4 linked regions of the Homo sapiens genome follow. The protein of the gene in region 4 binds, or shares a complex with, the protein of the main gene of each other region. Each region holds a gene or a part of one and is shown on either strand. Other genes may lie near its edges. The genes, in order: TARS1, GIGYF2, EIF4EBP1 and EIF4E2.

Region 1 (3,654 bases), on a different chromosome or scaffold from region 4:
TTAAAAAAAAGATGTTACTTTTAAAATATCATTCTAACAAGGAGGAATTAGTATTTATCCACATAAGAAATTATTTACTTTGTGCTGTCCTTTCAATCACCATTTATTGGTAGAAGATTTTGAAAATGATCCCTTATGAGAAAATAGGGAATTTGTAAACCAAGTGATTCTATGGTCCAGAACAGTCTGCCATAAACAGATATTTCTCTGAAGATTCACGTTTTATCTTAAACATTTGTGCAAATCTACTCTGTAATAGATCCATGGTAGTTTTTGTTTGAAAAGGTGTCCATCCAACATTAAGTAAAAATGACACTCCCAAAAGTGTTTATCCTCTGAGAAGCCAGCACCCAGCTCACACCCAGTTTATGAATAGCATTATGATGCTGCAGACCTACCCCGTCTCCATCCACCCTGCATTATATTTGCTGTAAAACTGTAAAGATAAATACTGAACCACATTATCTGTCTCAGGCATGTATGTGTACATGTGAGGGACAGAGCAGTCTTGAAACTTATGTGAATAAATTTTTTTTTTATTTTTACACCATAATCCAATTCTAGTTATCTTAATTGAATTTGAAAACTTTTTCAATTGCATTAAATTTACAAAAAAGTTCTCCCACATTACACTAAAGCATTCCTCATGTTTCACTTCCAGTACTCAGATACTGAATGAGTAAAATCATTTTATTGGCTCTCTTTTAATTAACTCCTTCAAATGCACATTGTTTAAAAACTGACTAGGTCAAAAATAGTTACGCCTGCAGGTTGACCTATTCAGACTTTGCCAAACTCCTCCAAGTTCAATATAAATTGACGTTTTCAGAGTACAAAGTCAATTTTACGGAAACGCTGTTCCTCCTTTTCCATGGAGCCAATCTGGGTAATTTTTTCATTAAAATTCTTCTTCTGCCTGTTTGCTGCGGAACTCTTTGAGCTGCTGTAGCCGCTCGATAGTTTCAGAAATGGTGCGTTCCCCGTGGACCTTATTGTCTCTTGTGCGGATATTAACAGTGCCACTGATTTTCTCTTTTTCACCAACAACTAAAACAAACACACAAAGCTTTGTCAGACTTAATCTAAAGATATGGAAGAATTCACACTGAACATCTGAAAAGAAATGATCCTAGGACCCAAAACCTACCCCATAGCTTCTGATACATTAAAAGGTACAAGTGACCATGTGTTGATATTTAAAAGAAACTCTTTGCAATATCTAAAACTACTGTGCTTATGGAGTCAATCTAGACAACGTAACAACCAAATAATAAAACCCCAAACATCATGAATATCTTTTTTCAAGTAATCCCACATAAGGCATTATCTTGAGAAAGTAATCCAATAGATGTGTTTAAAAGCAATGCGTCTTCATTCTTGTTATAATAGCAAAATATTTTCTCACAGACATCCATGATTTAAGTGAAAAAAAAAAAAACCCAGTATGTATGCATGAGCCTATTTTTATAGTTATTATATATTAAAATATATAATAGAAAAAAAATCAGGACTGGAAGGAACTAAATAAATTCTTGATTACAATTCACTTAAACCTGTCTCAAGGTTTCAGTAGATTTTCCTGAGGTGTGGCAAATTTTCTTTGGTAAGTTTCCATTCTTACCTAAAATGAAGTTATACTGTGCTAACTGTGCATTTCGAATCTTTTTATTCAATGTACAGCCTGGATCCAGATCAATGTCTGCCATGAATTTGGCATCGTGGAATTGTTGTCGTACCTATTGTAACAGAGATACAGAATTTGTCAGATCTAAAATCAGAATTATATTTTGATCTCACATGATTTTACTGAACACAGGGATCAGGACTTCTTGGATGAACTTCCAGGAATTTAAAGCTGGCAAAACTGTCTTAGATAATATTATTCACTGCCATTATTCCCCCCTCAAAAAGGCCAGCTCCTCTTTATTACCTCAGGTCATGTGTATTAAGTAAACAATGTTTTCAGTATTCTTTTCCAAAAAAGCAATAAACTAGATTACAATTTATTAATTTTACATTAACTAGATTAAACTTCCCATTAACCTGATAACATATTAACATGACAAAAAGACCTAAATGAACAATTTTATTTCACTATCATTTCATATGAACCTCAGATTACAGATGTGAAAAATATCACACGATCAACACCTGAAAGAAATGATCTTCAACTGAATAAATCTTAACTTCTGAGTATCAGAAAGTTTTTTTTTTTAATCAGGTTATCAGAGGCATTAGTCCCTTAACTTTAAAATAGAATAATATTTAATAGTCTAAAAGTAATTTAGATTAGAACAAATTAACAATGAGTATAAAAAATGTTTCTGTTCAGCCTGCTATGAGAGTTGGGCATTTTACATTCAAATCACCCCACACGTGGCAGAAAACTGTTTCCTTACAGTGGCCATTAACCCAAAGGAAGAACAGGAAAGTTGGAGGACGCTGGTGTTCCTTCCTCATCTCTGCCATAGAGACAGTACCATTGGGCTTTCACGCAAAGCCATGTGAGCAGTGACGGCCTATCCTCTTTTTGTAGACGCAGAAGTTACACTGTCTACTAGCAGAATCACCATCACAATTCCACCCAGACCTCTTAGAAGGGTCAGAGTTTCTGGAAATCCTGGTCAGAAAGCAGAATGAATTTTTCCAGGAAAACATCTTAAGTACAGCTGAAGGTGAAATAGTAACTATCATACTCTACTTAAGTATCATGAGTAAAACCAGCAATCTCTGGTTGACCTGGGTGACGAAATATTTCTTTCAATTTTTGATTGAAAAAGATTCTAAATGATCTACAACACATTCATTTCTCAAATGCGAGTTATGTGTAAACCAAGGGTTATTTATGTATGTCAAATGTTTATTTCTATAAGGCATACTTTTTGAAACAATCTAAGTGACTTTGCCTATACTGTGCACAAGTCTTAGCATTTTAACTAGATTTTTAAGCCACAGTGATCACGAACCAATTAACCTGTTGACATTTTATTACACCCATTTCAGAAGGGTTGTTACAGAATTTTAGAATGCCAAGATAGGTCTACATCTTCAACTTATAACTACTTTAAAGAATAAGGCATCAGTTTCTTCATTTTTCTCAACATGGGTCCTGTGTGTGCACGTGAGATGGGCAATTCTGCAGTTGGGGAAGTGGCCTGATAATTACAGGGTGTTTAACATGTCTGCTCTATAGTTATTAGGTATCAGGAGTACTGCCCTGTCTTCTCTCCCCGCAAAAGAAAAGCTTACCACCACATAATCTGGAATGCCACCTACCCGCAAAGGGAAATGGGGAAGTCAGTGCTGTCTCCAGTTGAGAACTCAGTTAACCAATACAGAACTTCTTCCTACTGTGTGAGTTTTCACATACAAATAAGACAAAGTGCACTCAACCATGGAACATAACTTTGATTGTCATCATTTGTAACTAAAACTACTGAGTGCAGTAACAGGAATAGTCTGAATGGTTTATCTATTAGATGGTTTAGTGTTCACTTCATTTTTTTTATTTATTTATTTGTTTTTATTTATTTATTTTTTTGAGATGGAGTCTTGCTCTGTCACCCAGGCTGGAGTGCAGTGGCATGATCTTGGCTCACTGCAAGCTCCGCCTCCTGGGTTCATTCCATTCTCCTGCCTCAGCCTCCTGAGTAG
Region 2 (7,032 bases), 290 kb from region 4:
GAGAAGATAAGGGTAACAATGAAATAATGAAAGAGAACTTACAAAAATCAGTTTCCATTTTTAATGTATCTTTATACCTAATCAAACATTAATGACAGACACTTGGTAAGTATGCAGCAATTGTGTTTAAATATTCTTTTATCTACCCTATAGAAATGAAAAAAACACTATAATCACAACATCCATACCACATGTTTAATTTCACTGAATGTTATACTGACTGAAACAGTTACTTGACTAAGGCTGAAGTAATTTGGGGATTCATTCTTTCCTTAAGAACCCTCAAATTCAATCAGTATTTATTAACTCCTATGATATGTGTCAGGCACTACAACATACACTAAAGAAAACAGCTATATCTTCCTGGAACTTTCAATCCACTGAGATTTTTTAGAGAGAAATCAAATGGAAAATGTAAGCAGTGTGTGGTATAGGAGAAAAGCATGAGTATCAGAGTTAGACAAACATGGGTTTAAAACCTGACTCTGAAATTTGCTGGCTGTGTGACCTTGATGAGTTATTTAACCATTCTGAGCCTCTGTTTCCTAATTTATAAAATGGGGATAATATCACCTATCTTGTAAAGGTATCTTTAAAAATCACTGCTAATCAAATAACTGGGATGCTGCATGTTAACTCCAAGAGAGTGCCTAGCACACATGGTAGGTGCTTAATGCATGGCAGCCATTACTGTTATTTAAAATTGTTTTCTCTGTAGGCTTTTAAACCATTAGATATTGTTACACTGCTGCAAAGGAACTCTTTAATTCCTTTACTGCTATTTTTCACAGTTTCTTGGCTTTAGACAGGGTATCAGAGGTGGATTAATTCAATTCAGCCTATTAGTTAGGGGAATCCTGACATGTTGACCAGTCTCTCTTCAAATATTCAGGGATGGGAGACAGTTCTGTTTGTAAACAGCTAACCATGAGCAAGTTTTTCTCTAAACTGTGCCAAAGCCTTTTCACTTCTGCACATTGGTCCTAGTTTTATCTTACACAAAATAAGTGTACTTGCTTTATCACAATTCCCATTCCCTCCCCCAAAGGTAGAAAGGGAATGATGTCACATCACTTCAGCCATCACTTGTCCAGGTTGACCTTTGTCCCCAGCATGAGAGTTACTTTTTTTAACTTGACATAGCTGGCAATGTTCCCCATAAAATGAACAGTATGGAACTAAGACCTCCTCTGTCCTGTGTATCATTAAGGCAGTCTAAGATGGCATTTACTTTTTGACAACCACCAATAATCTATTTGAGTTTAGTATTACTGGACTTTTCTCACAAGTAATACTATTAAAGAGTCAAGTTCCTATGGCAGGTGCAGCAGTTGACCTCCTTAGATTTCATCTTTTGACTTTTGGCCCACTGTTCAAATTTGCCAGCCTCTCTGTGGGTCCTGCTCTGTCATTCCACATGCCGGGTTTCCCTCCCCAATTCTTACCATCCAAGTTATTTGCCGTATTAAGGGCATGAAGCATCTGTTCACACCACTGCGTAAATCCATCTTGGGCTTTATTTACTCCCTGAAAGAGCTTCAGCAACTTTTCTTCTTCTTCTACTTTCTTATTCTGCCGGTTAGACACACCTACAGATTTACTAAAGCAAAACAATAGGGTGATATTATATTCCCAGAAACTGTTACTATATGATTATAGTACAACACCATAAATAATGTCTTGGCAATACTGGATGGATGCCCAGTAAATAATCCAATGCTTGGCTCCAAAAAAGAAAAAAATTCAAATATTTGGATTGGATATACCCTTAAAATCTAGCCTCAGTTAATATATCCTAATTTGTGGATACAGGGGTTCTACTTAGAAAAAATGATGAAATTCTTCCTACGTGTCCTTAGGTAAGTTGTTTAATTTTACTAAGCCTCAGTCTCCTCATCTGTAAAACGGTACTAACAACTTTTTTGGGTTATCATAAGTAATAAAGATGTTCTATGAAAAGGCCTACAGCACAGTGCCTGGCAAAGATGCTCAATAAACTAACAGAAATTTATTGTTCTATTCATAATATGTTAGGCCCTAAATCAAGAAGAAACAATCTGACAACACTACCATTTATTAAGTAGTTACTATGTGCCAGGCACTTACTACTTATCATGTATTCATTTAATCTTTACAATTACATGCATAAAGTTGTTATTATTATCTTCATTTTACCGATGAGGGAACTGAGGCCCAAAGAGGTTCCCTCTTGCCCAAGGTCACACAGCTAATAAGTGGTAGTGCTGGGATTTGAGTTCATGTATTTAACACTAAAACCCATGCTCGTTCAACAACACTGTATATTGAAGAAAGAAAGATGAAGATGAAAATGTAACTAACTTATAAAAATAAATAGGTTTAAGGTCATTACAGAGGTATTTTATAATACTCATATTAATAGCATAAATTACTTAAAAATACAAATATAGGAAAAATGCTAAGGTATCTAGAGAATACCTTGGAGAAATGTTCAACAACACAACAAAAACATTATACTATTCCTAATATTTATTAAGTGGTTACCATGTGCTAGGCGATAGAATAAGTGCTCAGCAGGAGCCCCAAGAAATAATACGAATGTGTTTCTATGGGGAAGAAAGCAATCACCATAATTATGACTGCATGTGCTTGAACACAGATGAAAACGGTAAGCAAAAACTCAATAACTACCTTTTCCTGCCCACCCAACATCCCACTTCCTCCATCCCCACCTCCCAACCAACCAAGGTGCATAGGTGTGGTCATTTTGAGCCCTACCTGAGACTGGCGTTGTTTTTATTTTTATTTGTTGAATTCCTAGGTCCCACCTCTTTCACTGCATCATCCCAGAATCCCATGTTGGAGTTTTTAGTGTCAGCATTACTCCAAATACTACTGACTAGGTCAGATGCCCACTGGTTAGGAGGACCAGTATTTATAGAGCCCCAAACAGAATTCCCAATGCTGGTGTGCAGGTTGGAATGCTGTTAAAGAAAAAGAGAAAAATGATTATCGTGAATCATGTTAAAAAGATAAGAAGACAGTCAGAAAAGATAATACTAGTCCATACAACGACAGCTTAGGAAAATGCACACACCGTATTGTTACGAGCTCTGTTTGGTTGCTGGTGTTGCTGCTGCTGCTGCTGCTGCTTTTGCATTTGCCTGGCCTCTTCCTGCTGGATCTCCAGAAGAGATTTCGTGGTACCTGAAGGTTTGCTGACATTCCCCCAACCTGAGAGTTTCTGCTGTTGCTGTTGCTGCTGCTGCTGAAGAGCTTTCATCAACTCCCTCTGCTGGCGCCTTTGCTGTTGCATAAAAACAGAAGCTAGCTGAGGATTCCTGTTTTTAGATAATAGTTATAAATATCCAGTATACTAAATGGAATGTAAATACACAGTAGCTACATAAAATTAACTTGATGGGATTAAATTCTGCTGTTGCAAATAAAAATGTAAATCGCTAACAGTATTAAAAAGGAGAATAAAAACATGAAATGCAAAATTACTTCTTTTTTTATTGTTGTTGAGACTGTGTCTCACTCTTCCGCCCAGGCTGGAGTGCAGTGGCACACTCTCAGCCCACTGGAACCTCCGCCTCCCAGGTTCAAGCCACAATGCCCGGTTAATTTTTTGTATTTTTAGTAGAGATGGGATTTCACCATATTGGCCGGGCTGGTCTCGAACTCCTGGCCTCAAGCGATCTGCCCACCTCGGCTTCCCAAAGTGCTGGGATTACAGGCATGAGCCACAGTGCCCGGCCTCAGAATTACTTTTTTTTTTTTTTTTTTTGAGACAGGGTCTCGCTCTGTCGCCCAGACTGGAGTGCAATGGCACGATCTCAGCTCACTGCAACCTCCGCCTCCCGGGTTCAAGTAATTCTCCTGCCTCGGCCTCCTGAGTAGCTGGGATTACAGGCGCCTGCCACCACACCACGCCTGGCTAATTTTTGTATTTTTAGTAGAGACGGGGTTTCACCATGTTGGTCAGGCTGGCCTTGAACTCCTGACCTTGTAATCCACCCGCCTCAGCCTCCCAAAGTGCTAGGATTACAGGAGTGAGCCACCGAGCCTGGCCAGAATTACTTCTTAAAAATTAAGTAGGCTTTTGGTTAAGCACAGAAATAAAACACATGTTTACTTCCTAAAGCCCCCACCAAAATGACAGATTATACACACACACACACACACACACACACACACACACACACACACACACACAGCATAAACACATGAGGACAAAGAAAACAGAATAGATTTTTTAAAATCTGAAAAGCAGATAAATAATGAGAACCAATGTAACAGACCTAATAAATTGAAATCTAAGTAAAGGAGCTCAGAAACAGGCAGATTCACAAAGAAGGCTCAGGAACTGGAGGTGCTGAGTCTCTCAAACAGAGGAAGACTGGTTGAAAGGCTGTAAAAAGAAGCAGTAAGACTCCAGATTGCCTCCCGCACTCTGTGCAGTTAGGCAATTCACTCTCCCTCACCACAGCAGAAAACCGAACATTCCCTGTCTGAAGAAGCCAAATCAGACTGGCACATTATCCTGTGGGGAAGCCAACCAGCTTGACAAGAGAACACACCTATAAGTAGGTACCAACAAATTGGAGTGGGGGTGGGGGTGGAGGTCCCCAACAGAACAACCCAGCCAGAATCTATTATAGGAAAGCCCATCAAGGTGCTGTACATACCAGAACCTCCAATCAGCTTCTGAGTGCCTTATTTGTAAATAGGAACAAACAGCCCAGAATTACCAAACATTTGACATAAACTTCTAACATAAAAGCCAAAGACCAAAACAAAAATAATTCAGCAGAAATAGAAATAAGAGAACGGCAAAATAGGAGTTGGCTTTTTAAGAAGCTATCAGTAAGTAATATCCTTAGAGAGGTAAGATGGTGCATTTAATGAAACAATAAAAGGCTATAAAAAATACTTAAAGAACAAAATAAGGACTCACAGATGTTTGATATAGCATATATTAAAAGCTCAACAGGGCCAGGTGTGGTAGCTCATGCCTGTAATACCCAACATTTTGGGAAGCCTAGGCAGGAGAATCACTTGAGCTCAGGAGTTCAAGGTTACAGTGAGTTACCATCACACCACTGCACTCCAGCCTGGGTGACAGAGCAAGACCCTGTCTCTAACAGGAGAAGCCCAATAGAAGGACTGCAGGTAAAACTGAGAAAATGCCCCATAGAAAAGATAAAAAGGGTAGGGCGTGGTGGCCCATGCCTATAATCCCAACACTTTGGGAGGCCAAGGTGGGAAGATCGCTTGAGCTCAGGAGTTTGAGGGCAGCCCAGGTAATGCAGTGACACCCGTCTCAAAAAAAAAAAAATTTTTTTTTAAATTAGCCAGGCATGGTGGCACACACCTGTAGTCCTAGCTACATTCCAGCCCAGGAGACACAGCAAGATCTTATCAAAAAAGATAAAAGCACAGAGATGGAAAACAGGAGAAAAAACATGAGAAAATCAAAATCAGTCCTGGGAGAAACATGTAAATAACAGGAACTCAAGAAAAACAAAACAGCAGCTATAAAGCAAGCTGAGAGTGTCCTGATTGGAACAGGTTAGAGGCCCCCAGAAAGGATGCCTCCAGGGATGATAATGAAATAAAATCATCTTGGGTTTTTCTACGTAAGAAATATGTGAAATGTGTATTAAGAGGCACCCTTATAAAGGGTACAGGGAGACTTAAAAGTTCCAAGAAAATTAAATGAAAATACAAATGAAGGCAGGGCACGGTGGCTCATGTCTGTTATTCCAGCACTTTGGGAGGCCGAGGCGGGTGGATCACTTGAGGTCAGGAGTTTGAAACCAGCCTGGCCAACATGGTGAAACTCCGTCTCTACTAAAAATACTTAAAAAAAAAAAAAAAAAAAAAAATAGCTGGTGGTGGTGGCAAGTGCCTGTAATCCCAGCTACTCGGGAGGCTGAGGCAGGAGAATCACTTGAACTCAGGAGGTGGAGGCTGCAGTGAGCCGAGATCGCGCCACTGCACTCCTGCCTGGGTGACAGAGCGAGCCTCAGTCTCTAAAAGAAAAAAAAGAAAAAGAAAACACGAATGAAATAATTATTAACTTCTGGTAGACAGGAGAAGACCTGTGATTCCTTGTCATTACCACTATTATTATCTTCTCATTCAGTAGGGACCAAAATTAGTGGAATAATTTCTAGCTTTGAAGGGAGAGACATACTCTGTTCTGCATCCATTTGTTGATAACCTTTTAGAGAAAGATGATTCCAGAGAAAGTTCAATTCTTTTTTTTTTTTTTCTTAAATAAAGGTGGGAAATAAGGTCATCTTCAAGTGTGAAGAAACATCTTATCTTACTGGATGACTTCAAGCACACTACCTGGTAAACACATATAGACAATTTCTATTTCTCCTTGTGTATCCAAAGCCCTCCTAATTTCAGTGAACCACATGACCCAGATCCAAAAATGACAACTTACATTCTCTAACAAATTGACTGCTCTACCTCAAATCATATCCACATAAAGCATCTTCAAGACTCTGCTATATTATGTCACCTTTTCAGAGGCCTTCTCAGAACACACTACCTAAATTTGGACAATCCACCACACCATCATTATCCCTGACTCCCAACACTCTCCCTACCCACCTTCCCTTGTTACCTCTCTGACACTTATCAACCTCTCATACGCTTCATTTTCTACTTTTCTCTTCTCAATCAGAGGGTCAGCTTCATGAATGCAGAAAATCTTGCCTGTTTTAGACTCAGCTATATCCCCAGACCTTAAGTGAGTAGGTACTCAGTAAACATGTGTTGAATGAATGAATGAATGAATGAATGAATGAGCACCGAATGGCATACTGAACCAAACTATGAAAATTATTCATTTTCTCCTCTCTGTCAAAAGCTGTGTTATTCCCCTTCCCTTTTATACTCTTTTGTATCCTTCCTACCCTAATGATGAACTACAGGATATACACTTAAAAGCAGAGGTACTTTATTTCTGTCACATTTTTCTAGACTAGTCAGGGAACCCAGTGTCTTTAGAGAAAAACATATTCTGCTTTCTAG
Region 3 (7,032 bases), on a different chromosome or scaffold from region 4:
AGAACCCAACGAACCCAAAAGATGGAGAACAATAACAAATCGCTGCTGTTTAGTTACTGTTTGGGGATGGCTTGTTATATAGCAATAGCTAACTGATACAACCATTTTCACCAAGTGTCCCTGCACACCTAAGAAGCCCTGATCCTCTGGGCCTAGTATCTGAGCTCTCTTAATGAGCTTTCATGGGCATAACCATCAGATTACATGGAGCCCTTTGCTGTGCATACCCAAATGTCAGTGAGCAGCAGTTACTTACTCTTGCCTTGTCAGCAATGCTGGATGCAAACAGGTAAATAAACAGCATCAGTCACAGTGTCTGAGACCCCGGCCCCAATACTGGCTTGTTCAGTGTAAGAAAAAGTTGCCAGATGCAGTGGCTCACATCTGTAATCCCAATGCTTTGGGAGGTTGAGGCAGGAGGATTGCCTGAGGCCAGGAGTTCAAGACCAGCCTGGGCAACATAGACCTCATCTCTACAAAAAATAAAAATTAGCCAGGTGTGGTAGCATGTGCCTGTGGTCCCAGCTACTCGGGAAGCTGAGGCAGGAAGATTGCTTGAGCCCAGGAGCTCAAAGTTACAGTGAGTGGTGATCGCGCCACTGTACTTCAGCCCATAGACACTCCAGCCTGGGCCACAGAGGTGAGGCCCTATCTGTTAAAAGTTTTTTGTTTTTGCTTTTTAAAAAAAAGAAAAAAAGTCACATCCACTCCCTGTTCGGTAATATTGGGACAAGAAATACCAGCAATACTGTTTAATACAAATGTTCCTTGACTTAAAATGAAGTATGTCCCAATAAATCCACCATACATAGAAAATATCTTAAGTCAAAAATGCATTTAGGGCCAGGTGCAGTGGCTCACGCCTGTAATTCCAGCACTTTGGGAGGCTGAGGCGGGCAGATCACTTGAGGTCAGGAGTTTGAGACCAGCCTGGCCAACATGGTGAAACCCCATCTCTACTAAAAATACAAATTAGCTGGGTGTGGTGGCACACGCCTATAATCCCAGCTACTCAAGAGGCTGAGGCAGGAGAATGGCTTGAACCTGGGAGGCAGAGGCTGTAGTGAGCAGAGATTGCACCACTGCACTCCAGCCTGGGCGATAGAGCAACACTCCAACTCAAAAAAAAAAAAAAAAAAAAAGTATTTAGTACACCTAACCTACTGAACATTATAGCTTAGCCTTCCCTACCTTAAATGTGCTCAGAACACTTACATTAGCCTACAGTTGGACAAAACCACCTGGCAACACAGCACACTATAGACTCTATAGTGGGCTGTCCAATCTTCTGGCTTCCCTGGGCCACACTGGAAGAAGAATTGTCTTGGACTACACATAAAATACACTAACACTGGCTGGGTGTGGTGGCTCACGCCTGTAATCCCAACACTTTGGGAGGACGAGGTGGGCGGATCACCTGAGCTTGGGAGTTCGAGACCAGCCTGACCAATATAGAGAAACACCATTTCTACTAAAAATACAAAATTAGCTGGGTGTGGTTGCGCGTGCCTGTAATCCCAGCTACTCAGGAGGCTGAGGCAGGAGAATCACTTGAACCTGGGAGGCAGAGGTTGCAGTGAGCCGAGATTGTGCCATTGCACTCCAGCTGAGCTTAAAAAAAAAAAAAAAAGAAAGAAATTTCATAATGTTTTAAGGAAGTTTACGGACTTGTATTGGGCCTCATTCAAAGCTGTCCAGAGTGCATGTGGCCTGAGGGTCTCGGGTTGGACAAGCTTGTGACTGGCCATTTGTCCTCATGTTTGTGGGGCTAAATGGGAGCTGCAGCTCACTGTCCCTGCTGAGCATCTCGAGAGCATGTACCTCGTATCGCTGGCCCAGAAACAGATCAAAATTCACAATTCAATGTACAATTTCTAGGCTGGGCGTGGTGGCGCACACCTGTAATCCCAGCTACTTGAGAGACTGAGGTGGGAGGATTGCTTGAGCCTGAGAGGCGGAGGTTGCAGTGAGCCGATATCATGCCAATGCACTCTAATGTAGGTAATAGAACAAGACTCTGCCTTTTTTTTTTTTTTTGAGATGGAGTCTTGCTCTGTCTCCCAGGCTGGAGTGCAGTGGCGTGATCTCGGCTCACTGCAACCTCTGTCTCCCGGGTTCAAGCGATTCTTCTGCCTCAGCCTCCTGAGTAGCTGGGAGTACAGGTGTGTGCCACCACACCTGGCTAATTTTTTGTACTTTTAGTAGAGACGGGGTTTCACCATGTTAGCCAGGATGGTCTCTATCTCTTGACCTCGTGATCCACCCACCTCAGCCTCCCAAAGTGCTGGGATTACAGGCATGAGCCACCGTGTCCGGCCAAGAATCTGTCTTAAAACAATTTTTAAAAGTACAATTCCTACTGAACACATATCACTTTCATACCATCGTAAAGTCAAAAATTGTAGTCACACCATCATAATCGGGGACTATCTGTATGAGGATAAGTAGGAGGGTTCAGAGAAGGTTATTCTCTGGCTGGTCCAGTGGCTCACGCCTGTAATCCCAGTGTTTTGGGAGGCTGAGGTGGTGGATCTCTTGAGCCCAGGAGTTCCAGACCAGCCTGGGCAACATGACAAAACTCTGTCACTACTAAAAATTTAAAGATTAGCCAGGCGTGGTGGTGTGTGCCTGTAGTCCCAGCTACTGGAGAGGCTGAGGCAAAAGGATCACCTGAGCTCAGGGGGTTGAGACTGCAGTGAGGCATGATCGTGCCACTGTACTCCAACCTGCAACAGAGTAAGACTTTGTCTCAAAAAACAAACAAACAAAAAACAGACAACATCATCAAAACAGAGAAAGTTAGTTTCTGCCCCTGGGACATTCTGAGATAAACACTTATACCCTGCAACTGAAAGGACAGAAAAGGAAATTTAAACGTCATCATTAAGCCAGCGGAGACTCAGGCCTGACAGTAAGAAAACTAGGTTATCCTGACCAGGCATGGTAGCTCACGCCTGTAATCCCAGCATTTTGGGAGGTCGAGGCGGGTGGATCACAAGGTCAGGAGATTGAGACCATCCTGGCCAACATGGTAAACCCCGTCTCTACTAAAAATACAAAAATTAGCTGGGTGTGGTGGTGCGTGCCTGTAATCCCAGCTACTCAGGAGGCGAGGCAGGAGAGTCACTTGAACCAGGGAGGTGGAGGTTGCAGTGAGCTGAGATCATGCCACTGCACTCCAGCCTGGGCGACAGAGCAAGACTCAGTCTCAAAAATAAATAAATAAATAAAATAAGAAAACTAGGTTATCCTGAGGGGAACGCTTTCATTCCAGCATTCTTTTCAACTCTTCACCTTCCAGACACTAGACCTGGCATTAGGTCATGTGGATACAAAGATGAGTAAGACTGCTCAGAAAAAATTTCCTGGCTAACCTAGGGAACAAACACGTAAACAAAAACGTGTGATTCATTCGCTATGAATCATAATGGAGAGAGACCCCAGGCATGGGTCTAAGTCAGACCAGAAAGAAACAGGTTTTTCATGGGTTTGTTGGCACAGGCAAGAATCTATGTGCACAACTGAACATTTTTTTTTTTTAAAACTCACCTTAGAAAGCAATGTTCCTTTTTTTCAATATTGCTGTGCCTTCCCAGGCCAAGCACAGTGGAGCATGCCTCTAATCCCAGAACTTTGGGAGGTCAAGGCGGGTGGATTACTTGAGCTCAGGAGTTTGAGGCCAGCCTGGGCAACATGGCGAAACCTCATCTCTACCAAAAAATACAAAAATTAGCCGGTTGTGGTGGTGCATGCCTGTAGTCCCAGCTACTTGGGAGGCTGAGATGGGAGGATTGCTTGAGCCCAGGAGGTTGAGGCTGCAACTGCACTCCAGCCTGGGTGACAAAGTGAGACCCTGTTTCAAATTAAAAAAAAAAGAAGAAACAATATTGCTGTGCCTTCCTAACTCATCTTCCAGAACATGAAAATAAAGGTCTATATGAGAAAATGCCTCGCTACTTTATGTCAATGGATAAATATGGTATTGCTCTGCTGACCCTTTTTCCTCAGATTTGGCAATGAAGGACTTTTTTGGTCTTTTAGGAAGCAAAAAAATCAAACTCTCTCTCTTTTTTCTTTGAGACGGAGTTTCACTCTTGTCACCCAGAATCGTTCGAGTGAGTCTCGTGCCTCAGCCTCCTGTGTAGCTGGGATTACAGGCGCCTGCCACCAGGCCCGGCTAATTTTTTTTTGTATTTTTATTAGAGATGGGGTTTCACCATGTTGGCCAAGCTGGTCTTGAACTCCTGACCTCAGGTGATCTGCTTAGCCTCCCAAAGTGCTGGGATTACAGGTGTGAGCCATCGCACCTGGCCTCTCCTTTCAAATAATAAAAAACTAGAGGGTCAGACTCAGAAGCAAAGCATGACCCTGTCTCTACAAAAATAAATAGCCGGGTTTGTGGTCCCAGCTACTCGGGAGGCCGAGGCAGGAGAATTGCTTGAACTCAGGAGGCGGATGCTGCAGTGAGCTGAGACGGTGCCACTGCACTCCAGCCTGGGTGACAGAATGAGACTCTGCCTCAAAAATAAAATAAAATAGGCCGGGCGCGGTGACTCATGGCTGTAATGTCAGCACTTTGGGAGGCTGAGGCGGGCGGATCACGAGGTCAGGAGTTCGAGACCAGCCTGGCCAACGTGGTGAAACCCCATCTCTACTAAAAATACAAAAAATTAGCCAGGCGTGGTAGCGCGCCTGTAAACCCAGCTATTCGGGAGGCTGAGGCAGGAGAATTGCTTGAACCCAGGAGGTGGAGGTTGCAGTGAGCCGAGATCGCACCATTGCACTCCAGCCTGGGCGACAGAGCAAGGCTCCATCTTGAGGAAAATAATAATAAATAAATAAATAAATAAATAATTAGCTGGGCATGGTGGTGCGTGCCTGTCATCCCAGCTACCCGGGATTCTCCTGTCTCAGCCTGAACCTGGCAGGTGGAGGCTGCAGTGAGCTGAAATCATGCCACTGCACTCTAGCCTGGGCGACAGAGTTAGACTGCCTCAAAAATAAAATAAAATAAAATAAAATAATAAGGCCGGGTGTGGTGGCTCATGCCTGTAATCCCAGCACTTTGGGAAGCTGAGGCGGGTGGATCACCTGAGGTCAGGAGTTTGAGACCAGCCTGACTAACATGGTGAAACCCTGTCTCTAATAAAAATACAAAAATTAGCCGGGTGTGGTGGCACATGCCTGTAATCCCAGCTACTTGGGAGGCTGAGGCAGGAGAATCACTTGAACCCAGGAGGCGTAGGTTGCAGTGTGCCAAGATTGCACCACTGCACTCCAGCCTGGGCAACAAGAGCGAAACTCTGTCTCAAAATAATAATAATAATAAAAAGGAGTCTGGGGATTGGAGGGATTTTGGAGTGCTCTACACCAGGAACCCCCCACCAAATCTTTAATAAGGGACACAGTGTGGAATGCTTCCAACACTTTAAAAAATTTTATTTATTTAATTTATACCGACAGAGTCTCACTATGTTGCTCAGGCTGGTCTTGAACTCCTGGCCTCAAGTAATTTTCCTGTCTCAGCCTTCCTAATAGCTGGGATTACAGGAGTGAGCCACCGCACCCAGCTCCTTCAAACACTTTAAAAGGAAGCTCAGGTAAATGTGAGAAGAGGGTCCATCGTTTCTCCCTCACTGCATTAATGTCCAAGCTCTTTTAACCCATCCTTAATAATTTCTTCCCTCCATGTGACTAAGGCCTCAGGACATGGGCTGTGCTCTGGCTTTGGTGCCCAGCCTACATCCCCTTCTTCCCAGCACTGCCTGTTTCATGTCCAAAGACTTGGGAGCTGCTCCAAGGTAAGCTTCCTGGGCACAGACCTTGTTTGCTTAACCAAACAGGGTGCCATTAACACCTGCAGCCCTACCTGCTCACCTCGGATTCACCTTATCCAGGTACGGGTCTTTGGCACAACTGCCATCCAAGCCTGTATATAGGCTTCAGAGTCAAACATGCAACACGGAGCTGGGAATGTGGAGATTGATGAGGGAAAGTTTCTTTCTGACCCACTCAAAGGTTCTGCTGGCTAATGAGCTGTTTATGGTGTCGCTGGATATTTTTAAGACTCCACAGACTCAAATATTCATACATGACACTCCCTTCGGCAATTAAATTATCTTAAGTACTCTGGACAGCTAACCTCAGAGCAGAGCCTCAGTGTGCAAATGGTTAATGACCATGGAAAGCAAACTGGAGGCCAGGTGAGGTGACTCATGCCTACAATCCCAGCAGTTTGGGAGGCTGAGGTGGGAGGACTGCTTGAGCCCAGGAGTTTGAGGCCAGCCTGGGTAATACATAGAGACCCTGCCTCTACAAAAAAATAAAAAAATTAGCAGGGCATGGTGGCACGTGCCTATAGTCCCAGCTACTTGCAAGGCTGAGGCAGGAGGATCACTTGAGCCCAGGAGTTTGAGACTGCAGTGAGCTATGTTTGTGCCACTGTACTCCAGCCTGGGTGACACCATGAGACCCTGTCTCAGGAAAAAAACAAAAAAAGGGCCGGGTGCAGTGGCTCACGCCTGTAATCCCAGTACTTTGGGAGGCCAATGCAGGCGGATCACGAGGTCAGGAGATCGAGACCATCCTGGCTAACACGGTGAAACCCTGTCTCTACTAAAAACACAAAAAATCAGCCGGGCTTGATCGCGGGCGCCTGTAGTCCCAGCTACTTGGGAGGCTGAGGCAAGAGAATGGCGTGAACCCGGGAGGCGGAGCTTGCAGTGAGCCAAGATCTCACCATTGCACTCCAGCTTGGGCGACAAAGCGAAACTCCATCTCAAAAAAAAAAAAAAAAAAAAAGGAAAGCAAACTGGAGTCATAGGAATGGAGATAGTGCAACCCAACTGCTGCTTCTTTCCCTCCAGGGACAATCACTTGAGGGCCATTCCCAGCAGGAGTGACTGGGGGGTACTTACTCCAATGGTTTTTCCTGAGAAGCTGACAGTCCCTATAAGTAAGCAGGTGCAGACAGCCATGCAGACACTCTATCAAAAGCCTGGCTCTCCACACCACGATTTAGAGATCAAAGTT
Region 4 (7,518 bases):
ACATTTAAGGCAAATCTTACAAGCTACTCTTCCCAGCTTCAAGCTGGATTTGAGTCAAGATACAACTCAGACTGAAAAATCAGTGCTCCCTAAACTCAGGCAGTTAGCAACTCTGAGACTGTCCAGACTGAGAGGCACTTTAGTTAGCTTGCTAAGCTTCTGCCCACGTATTTCCTCACCCTCTGAACTAGACCAATACCTTGTGGGCAGGACCTTGGTTCAATTCATCTTTATACCCTCACCATCAGACAGTGGCATAAAAAAAAATCTCCGTTTAATGAATGGGTCTATAGAATCAAAGCAATGAGTGCCAAATAAGTGGTTTAGACAATAGTTAGGAATGGGCCCAAAGTTAACGATATAGAATAAAAAGCAAATGATGTAGAATACGGACAAAATCAAGTACAGTTGTGTAGATCTGAAAACTATGTTTAAGTCAGGACTGCAGTTTTTGTGAAAGCATCTTACGGTTTTACGTTATCAATAGGATCAATGGCAATGAGATCTAAGGACTTGATAGGTCTACCCCTTCTCCACAAAAGCAATTACAATCAAAGGTTTCATTCAGAGAAGTTGAGTCCATACAGTAACGGAGATTAGAGCTAATCTTTAATATGAGCCCATTAGATTATATACTACTGTACTCAGCTCCAGCCACTGGACATCTGGAAGGATTCTGGCAAACTGGAACATGTCCTTAAGAGCAATGTGGTAAAAAGTGCAGATTACTAGAGAGAGCAATGTGGTAAAGACTCCAAATATGCAGCAATGGCCTAAACACCGCAGAATTTCTGAATGAAAAACAACATAAAAAAATAAAACTAGGGGCAGGAGTGCTGTTTTCAACTGCTAATTTCAAATGAAAGAAAGCTTGTTTTTCTTTTTTTTTCCTGCAATGCTAGAGGGCAGATGTTAAAAGATTCTGGCTCAATACAATAGTTAATAATTCAAAGTAATTAAAATGACCCAGGTTCTTCAATCGTAGAAGAGGTAAGAAAAAAAAAGAGGGCAAGTTTAATTTTTCTCAAGAGGTGCTTGAACCAAGGTTACACAACAAACCTGGGATAGCCCTTCCTTTGTGTCGGGAATTAGTTAACCTCAGAGTCTCACTTTCCTCATCTGTAAAAGGAGACAACAAGATCCCCTTCACAGAATTGTTAGAGTAGAAATAACATATGAGGCTGGGGGTGGTGGCTCATGCCTGTAATCCCAGCACTTTAGGAGGCAAGGTGGGTGGATCTCTTGAGCCCGAGTTCGAGATCGGCCTGGGCAACATGGCGAAACCCCGTCTCTACAAAAAATACAAAAAAATTAGCAAGGTAGGGTGGCACATGCCTGTAGTCCGGCTACTCTGGAGGCTGAGATGGGAGGATTGCTGGTGCCCGGGAGGTTGAGTGGGCAGTGAGCTGTGATGACACCACTGCACTCCAGCCAGGGTGACACAGCGAGACCCTGTCTCAAAAAATATATATATATATGAAAAATACCTAGCAAGATCCCTGTGGAAGTCCATTATTACCATTCTTACTGCAGACTCCCAAATGATTTGGGTAGGCTTGAGCTAGATGACCCATAAGATGTCTTCTTAGGATGACATTTGATTTGTTCAAATCAGTGGAGGAAGGGGTATAAGGGTTCCAGAAAGCTCCACTGAGGCAGGATTTGGATCTGGAGCTAGTTGTTGCAGGGTTTACAATAGAGATGAAATGGGGCGGCAGCGGGGGAGAGGTTCGTAGAGGGACAGGCTCAGTTAAACAGCAGGATAGAGAAGAGGTCGGGCAAAGACTTTCTCAAGTAGCAGAGACCTCTCAGCAACCAGAAAACATTCCTGAGGACCTACCTGCCTGGAGTGTTGGAAATCCAGTATTCCCTGAATTTGCACAGTACTCTCTGTATTGGAAACACCCCAATTTCCCATCAAAAGCACCAGGTCACAACCTAAACTAATAGTAATTCCACTTTACGTTTATATCGCAATAGTTAGCAATGTTCACAAGCATCTTTAAGCATCGCTGAGTGTGATCTGACCCTTATCACACCCCGGCGTGGCAGCAGGGTCCTAGCCACTAATGTGGTTTGAGCAACAATGGCTTAGAGGCTGGGTAACTTTTCTACAGTCAAACAGATGGTAAGTGGTGAATCTGGGACTAGAAATCCAGGTTTTCGGATGAAGAGACAGTCGATTTACTAGACTACTAGAAGAGAGGAAGGAACATATTCTACCTCAAGATACAATCCTTGGAGGGGGATAAGTAAAGATACTTCTGCATTTTCTCTCTGTACCTCCAAACTGTTTGATGCTGAAACTAGAAACCGGAGCGGGCAGGAGAGGGCAACAAGTATACTTAGGTCTTGGCGAGTGTGTTGGAAGACGGGAACGGGAAGGGGAGGAGAAAGAAAGTAGGAAGAGTCTCAGGAAGATAATTCCTAAGCCAGCCTTCCACCGCGTCGAGGGCAGCAACCACATTACCTCATTGCATCCTCCAAACTCTACGACAAAGGGTGTTACCGTCCCCACTCTGCAGATGAGAAAACTGAGGCTCAGAGGGGAGAGGGAGTGTGTGGGGAAAGCTGGATTCAGAGGCAGCGCTGCCAGACTGCGGAAACACCCAAACCGCCGAGGTCCCCACCCCTCCACGTCGCAGGCAATCCGCATCCACCAGGGCGGGGCGTCCGAAAATCTCCCCCTACCGGGCGGCACAGCCACCCCTCCCCCGGGCCCAGCTCTTCGCCCTCGGTTCGGACGGCCCTGGGGTCTCCGGGACTCCGGTATCCATTGCTCCCCAGCCCCCTCCTCCCCGCCAGTCCAGGCCAGGTCCGGCCGCAGCCGGATCCCAGCAGGGAAGCCGGTGCCGCAGGGTTTGCGCCGCCCCAGCCCCAGCGGGGGCGGGCGCGGGGGAACTGTTCGGGGAAGGGGCCCCGGGGGCGGCCACGAGCCACTCACGCGTCGAACTTGTTGTTCATCCTCTCGCCGCCGCTGTCGCCACTGCCTCAGGGAGTGACTTCCGCTCCACCGGGTCCCTCAGCCTTGGGCCCGGGTACTTCCGGTTTTGCGCGGGGCGCAGCGGAACGTCGGCGCGCAGGCCCGGTTTGGAAGCGGCTATCTCGGGACGCCAGCTCAGGGCGGCTGCGCAGAGGGCTGGACTCAGCGGCGGAGCTGGCTGCTGGCCTCAGTTCTGCCTCTGTCCAGGTCCTTGTGACCCGCCCGCTCTCCTAAGGGAGCGTGTCCTGGCCCCCTCCCGCAGCGGCTCGGAAAAAAGGCAGCACCGCGTCGTTGACGGCGCGGGCTCTGGACTCGCTGCTTGGTAAAAACCTTCCTCTTCCTCCAGTGCGGGACGCACTCTCTGGTATCTCTTTTGACCTCCCGGAGGCTTTCCTTTGTCGGTCGCGGCGCCACTGTACTATGGCATACCTCGTTTTATTACGCTTCGCAGATAGGGCATTCTGAAAACAAATGGAGGGTTTGTGGCAGCCCTGAGTCCAGCAATTGTATCAGCGCCATTTTTCCAACAGCATGTGCTCACTTGGTGTCTCTGTGTTACATTTTGGTAATTCTCAAAATATTTAAAACTTTTTCATGATTTCTGTGTCTGTTATGGTGATCTATGATCAGTGATCTTTGATGTTGCTATTGTCATTGTTTTGGGGTGCCACATACAGCGTCTTTTATAAGACGTGGAACTTAATGTTGTGTGTGTTCTGACCGCTCCACCCACAGACCGTTCCCCATCTCTCTCCCTCTTCTTGGGCCTCCCTATTCCCTGAGACACAACAATATTGAGATTAGGCGAATTAATGACTCTGCAATGGCCTCTAAGTGCTCAAGTGAAAGGAAGAGTCGCACATCTCTCACTTTAAATCAAAAACTAGAAATGATTAAACTGAGTGAGGAAGGTATGTCAAAAGCCGAGATAGGCCGAAGGCTAGGCCTCCTGCGGCAAACAGTTAGCCAAGTTGTAAATGCAAAGGAAAAGTTCTTGAAGGAAGTTAAAAGTGCTACTCCAATGAACACACGAATGATAAGAAAGCGAAACAGCCTTATTGCTGATATGGAGAAGGTTTTAGTGGTCTGGATAGAAGATCAGACCAGCCGCAACATTCCCTTAAGCCAAAGCCTAATCCAGAACAAAGCCCTAACTCTCTTCAACTCTATGAAAGCTGAGAGAGGTGTGGAAGCTGCAGAAGAAAAGTTTGAAGCTAGCAGAGGTTGGTTCATGAGGTTTAAGGAAAGAAGCCATTTCCATAACATAAAAGCACAAGGTGAAGCAGCAAGTGCTGATGTAGAAGCTGCAGCAAGTTATCCAGAAGCTTTAGCTAAGATCATTGACGAAGGTGGCTACACTAAACAACAGATTTTCAATGTAGATGAAACAGCCTTCTATTGGAAGAAGATGCCATCTAGAACTTTCATAGCTAGAGAGGAGAAGTCAGTGCCTGGCTTCAAAGCTTCAAAGGACAGGCTGACTCTCTTGTTAGGGGCTAATGCAGCTGGTGACTTTAAGTTGAAGCCAATGCTTATTTACCATTCTGAAAATCCTAGGGCCCTTAAGAATTATACTAAATCTACTCTACCCGTGCTATATAAATGGAACAGCAAAGCCCGGATGACAGCACATCTGTTTACAGCGTGGTTTACTGAATATTTTAAACCCACTGTTGAGACCTACTGCTCAGAAAAGAAGATTCCTTTCAAAATATTACTGCTCATTGACAATGCCCCTAGTCATCCAAGAGCTCTGATGGAGATATACGAGGAGATTAATGTTATTTTCATGCCTGCTAACACAACATCCATTCTGCAGCCCATGGATCAAGGGGTAATTTCGACCTTCAAGTCTTATTATTTGAGAAATACATTTCATAAGGCTCTAGCTGCCATGGATAGTGATGTCTCTGATGGATCTGGGCAAAGCAAATTGAAAACCTTCTGGAAAGGATTCACCATTTTAGATGCCATTAAAAACATTCGTGATTCATGGGAGGAGGTCAAATTGTCAACATTAACAGGAGTTTGGAAGAAGTTGATTCCCACCCTCATTGATGACTATGAGGGGTTCAAGACTTCAGTGGAGGAAGTAAGTGCAGATGTGGTGGAAATAGCAAAAGAACTAGAATTAGAAGTAGAGCCTGAAGATGTAACTGAATTGCTGCAATCTCATGATAAAACTTTAACAGATGAGGAGTTGTTTCTTATGGATGCGCAAAGAAAGTGGTTTCTTGAGATGGAATCTACACCTGGTGAAGATGCTGTGAACATTGTTGAAATGACAACAAAGGATTTAGAATATTACATAAACTTAGTTGATAAAGCAGCAGCAGGGTTTGAGAGGATTGACTCCAATTTTGAAAGAAGCTCTACTGTGGGCAAAATGCTATCAAACAGCATCGCATGCTACAGAGAAATCTTTCATGAAAGGAAGAGTCAACTCATGCGAAAAGCTTCACCGATGTCTTATTTTAGGAAATTGCCACAGCCACCCCAACCTTCAGCAGCCACCACCCTGACCAGTCAGCAACCATCAACCTCGAGGCAAGACCCTCCACCAGCAAAAAGAGTACGACTCACCGAAGGCTCAGATTGATAATCAGCATTTTTTAGCAATAAAGTATTTTTAAATTTAGGTATGTATATTGTTTTATTAGACAATGCTATTGCACTCTTGCTGGTCTACAGTATAGTGTAAACATAACTTTTATATGCATTGGGAAACCAAAAACATTCATGTGACTTGCTTTCTTGTGTTGGTCTGGAACTGAACCTGCAATGTCTTTGAGGTATGCCTCGACCTACCTCCTTAGGTTGCTGTATGGATCCCATGAGACAGTAACTTATAGTAATGGCAGCTAATGTTAACATTTGAGTGTTTATTGTGTACAAGGAGCTAATCCTCTGCCCTCTGAGGCTTTCAGAGAGGTTGAGAGACTTGTGCCAGATACACAACTAGTAAGGGGCTGGTGGGAACCGGAAATGGCCCCACTGTCATCAGATTCCCTCCCTGATTGAAGTTCTCCCCCACTCTCCCTAACTCCTCTAGTTCTCTATAGCTCTGACTCTGCTCTTGCTTCAAACACACTGTGCATGCACAGACACAGACTCACACTGGAGTAAATAATACGAACTTGCTGGTGATTGAATCCCAAAGACAGCAATCCTGTGCTTGGAGGGAGGGCATATTTCCAAGGTCCCCTCCTGCCAGCATATCCTGTCGTCAGGCCTTTATGTGGCACTTTCACTTTTCTTTTTTCAGTTTTGTAATTTTTTTATTTTTTTTGAGACAGGGTCTTACTGTGTCATCAGGCTGGAGTGCAGTCACATGATCACAGCTCACTGCAGCCTAGACCTCCTGGGCTCAAGCGATCCTCCCACCTCAGCCTCCCGAGTAACTGGGACTACAGGCATGCATCACCACGCCCAGCTAAGTTTTGTATTTTTTGGTAGAGGCCGGGTGTCCCCATGTTGCCCAGGCTGGGTTCCTGGGTTCGTGGGCTCCTGAGCTCAAGCAGTCCACCCACCTTGTCCTCCCAAGGTGCTGGGATTGCAGGTGTGAGCCACCACACCTGGCCAGGAATGGATTATTTTTTGCACCTTATTTACAGATGAGGGAACAGCCTCAGGGAGCATAGGTGACTTGCCCAAGGGTGTCCCCTGGTTACCAGCCAAACTCGTGTGCCGGCTGTAATCTCAGAGCAGGACCTTGCCTCTCCCCCAGGAAGACCCCAGCCTTACTACCTGATTAGTGGGGTCAAGGGAGGCCAGTCAAAGTCTCCTCCTGGAATGAAGAGCTCAGTGGCTCTCTGTTAACTCCACACCTCCTCTTGCCTAGCTCTTCCTTGTCTTAACCATCCTTTGGGAAGAAGGGCCTGTTTTTCAGGCCGTAGAATCTTAGAGTGTCAGATTGGGTCAGAGTCAGGAATTCTGGACTTCAAACCTTGTTTAACCACCACTGTTGTGTGGAGTCCCGCTTACTCTAGGCTCAATTTGCCTATATAACATGGGGAATAATGACTCTTGCTTATCCATACTGCTGTGAGGAGCTCTTAATTAAAAAGGAGGCCAGGTACAGTGGCTTATGCCTGTAATCCCAAGACTCAAGTGGGAGGATCACTTGAGCTCAGGAGTTCAAGACCAACCTAGGCAACATAGCAAAACCTCATCTCTACTAAAAATTTAAAAGTAGCTGGGTGTAGTGGTGCATGCCTGTGGTGCCAGCTACTTGGGAGGCTGAGGCAGGAGCATTGCTTGAGCCCTGGAGGTTGAGGCTGCAGTGAGCCATGATCATGCCACTCCACTCCAACTTGCATGACAAGAGTGAGGCTCTATCTCAAAACTAAACAAAACAACAACAACACATCAAAAACTAAAAAAAAAAAAAAAAAAAAGAGGATTACAAAACTCAGGAAATCGTCTTGTGGTCAGTGGCAGAAAAATGCACATGAATGGAAAGGCCACTGGGGCTGTTGAGAATTGGGTGCTTATTGTACCCAGAAGGCACGGGGGGGAGATGCCAGCTGGTATGG

What was found.
Region 1: the proteins of EIF4E2 (region 4) and TARS1 are in contact, whole or in part, in a crystal structure (PDB 5XLN), measured with the Homo sapiens proteins. Residues at the interface, in NP_004837.1 of Homo sapiens: His54, Pro55, Leu56, Gln57, Val91, Glu92, Phe94, Trp95, Arg96, Glu149, Asn150, Leu153, Leu156, Gly157, Glu158, Gln159, Met161, Val203; in NP_001245366.1 of Homo sapiens: Pro51, Glu52, Tyr53, Ile54, Tyr55, Thr56, Arg57, Met60, Tyr61, Ile63, Leu64, Glu67.
Region 2: the proteins of EIF4E2 (region 4) and GIGYF2 are in contact, whole or in part, in a crystal structure (PDB 5NVM), measured with the Homo sapiens proteins. Residues at the interface, in NP_004837.1 of Homo sapiens: His54, Pro55, Leu56, Gln57, Tyr64, Arg66, Asn81, Lys83, Gln84, Ile85, Gly86, Thr87, Val91, Glu92, Phe94, Trp95, Arg96, Phe97, Ser99, His100, Met101, Val102, Leu107, Phe113, Glu149, Asn150, Leu153, Leu156, Gly157, Glu158; in NP_001096616.1 of Homo sapiens: Leu38, Ala39, Asp40, Tyr41, Arg42, Tyr43, Gly44, Arg45, Met48, Leu49, Leu51, Phe52, Leu53, Asn56, Lys57, Ile58, Pro59, Asp61, Leu62, Asp64, Glu66, Phe67, Pro69, Ile70, Leu71, Gln72.
Region 3: the proteins of EIF4E2 (region 4) and EIF4EBP1 are in contact, whole or in part, in a crystal structure (PDB 5NVN), measured with the Homo sapiens proteins. Residues at the interface, in NP_004837.1 of Homo sapiens: Glu53, His54, Pro55, Leu56, Gln57, Tyr58, Tyr64, Arg66, Lys83, Gln84, Ile85, Gly86, Val91, Glu92, Gln93, Trp95, Arg96, Phe97, Ser99, His100, Met101, Val102, Leu107, Phe113, Glu149, Asn150, Leu153, Gly157, Glu158, Gln159; in NP_004086.1 of Homo sapiens: Arg51, Ile52, Ile53, Tyr54, Asp55, Arg56, Phe58, Leu59, Met60, Cys62, Arg63, Ser65, Val67, Thr68, Lys69, Thr70, Pro71, Pro72, Asp74, Leu75, Pro76, Ile78, Pro79, Gly80, Val81, Thr82, Ser83.

The regions. Positions count from the first base shown.
Region 1 is NC_000005.10:33,464,953-33,468,606, reverse strand, and holds the end of TARS1 (threonine--tRNA ligase 1, cytoplasmic), read right to left. Parts: intron 1,737-3,654; coding exon 1,622-1,736; intron 1,048-1,621; coding exon 899-1,047; 3' UTR 521-898; downstream 1-520. UniProt on the Homo sapiens protein: Catalyzes the attachment of threonine to tRNA(Thr) in a two-step reaction: threonine is first activated by ATP to form Thr-AMP and then transferred to the acceptor end of tRNA(Thr).
Region 2 is NC_000002.12:232,840,300-232,847,331, reverse strand, and holds part of GIGYF2 (GRB10-interacting GYF protein 2), read right to left. Parts: intron 3,287-7,032; coding exon 3,077-3,286; intron 2,964-3,076; coding exon 2,758-2,963; intron 1,601-2,757; coding exon 1,446-1,600; intron 1-1,445. UniProt on the Homo sapiens protein: Key component of the 4EHP-GYF2 complex, a multiprotein complex that acts as a repressor of translation initiation. In the 4EHP-GYF2 complex, acts as a factor that bridges EIF4E2 to ZFP36/TTP, linking translation repression with mRNA decay.
Region 3 is NC_000008.11:38,033,513-38,040,544, reverse strand, and holds part of EIF4EBP1 (eukaryotic translation initiation factor 4E-binding protein 1), read right to left. Parts: intron 1-7,032. UniProt on the Homo sapiens protein: Repressor of translation initiation that regulates EIF4E activity by preventing its assembly into the eIF4F complex: hypophosphorylated form competes with EIF4G1/EIF4G3 and strongly binds to EIF4E, leading to repress translation.
Region 4 is NC_000002.12:232,546,171-232,553,688, reverse strand, and holds the start of EIF4E2 (eukaryotic translation initiation factor 4E type 2), read right to left. Parts: upstream 3,001-7,518; 5' UTR 2,965-3,000; coding exon 2,945-2,964; intron 2,623-2,944; exon of another isoform or gene 2,476-2,622; coding exon of another isoform or gene 2,471-2,475; intron 1-2,470. Other genes in the region: TIGD1 (tigger transposable element-derived protein 1), read left to right, coding at 3,807-5,582. UniProt on the Homo sapiens protein: Recognizes and binds the 7-methylguanosine-containing mRNA cap during an early step in the initiation. Acts as a repressor of translation initiation.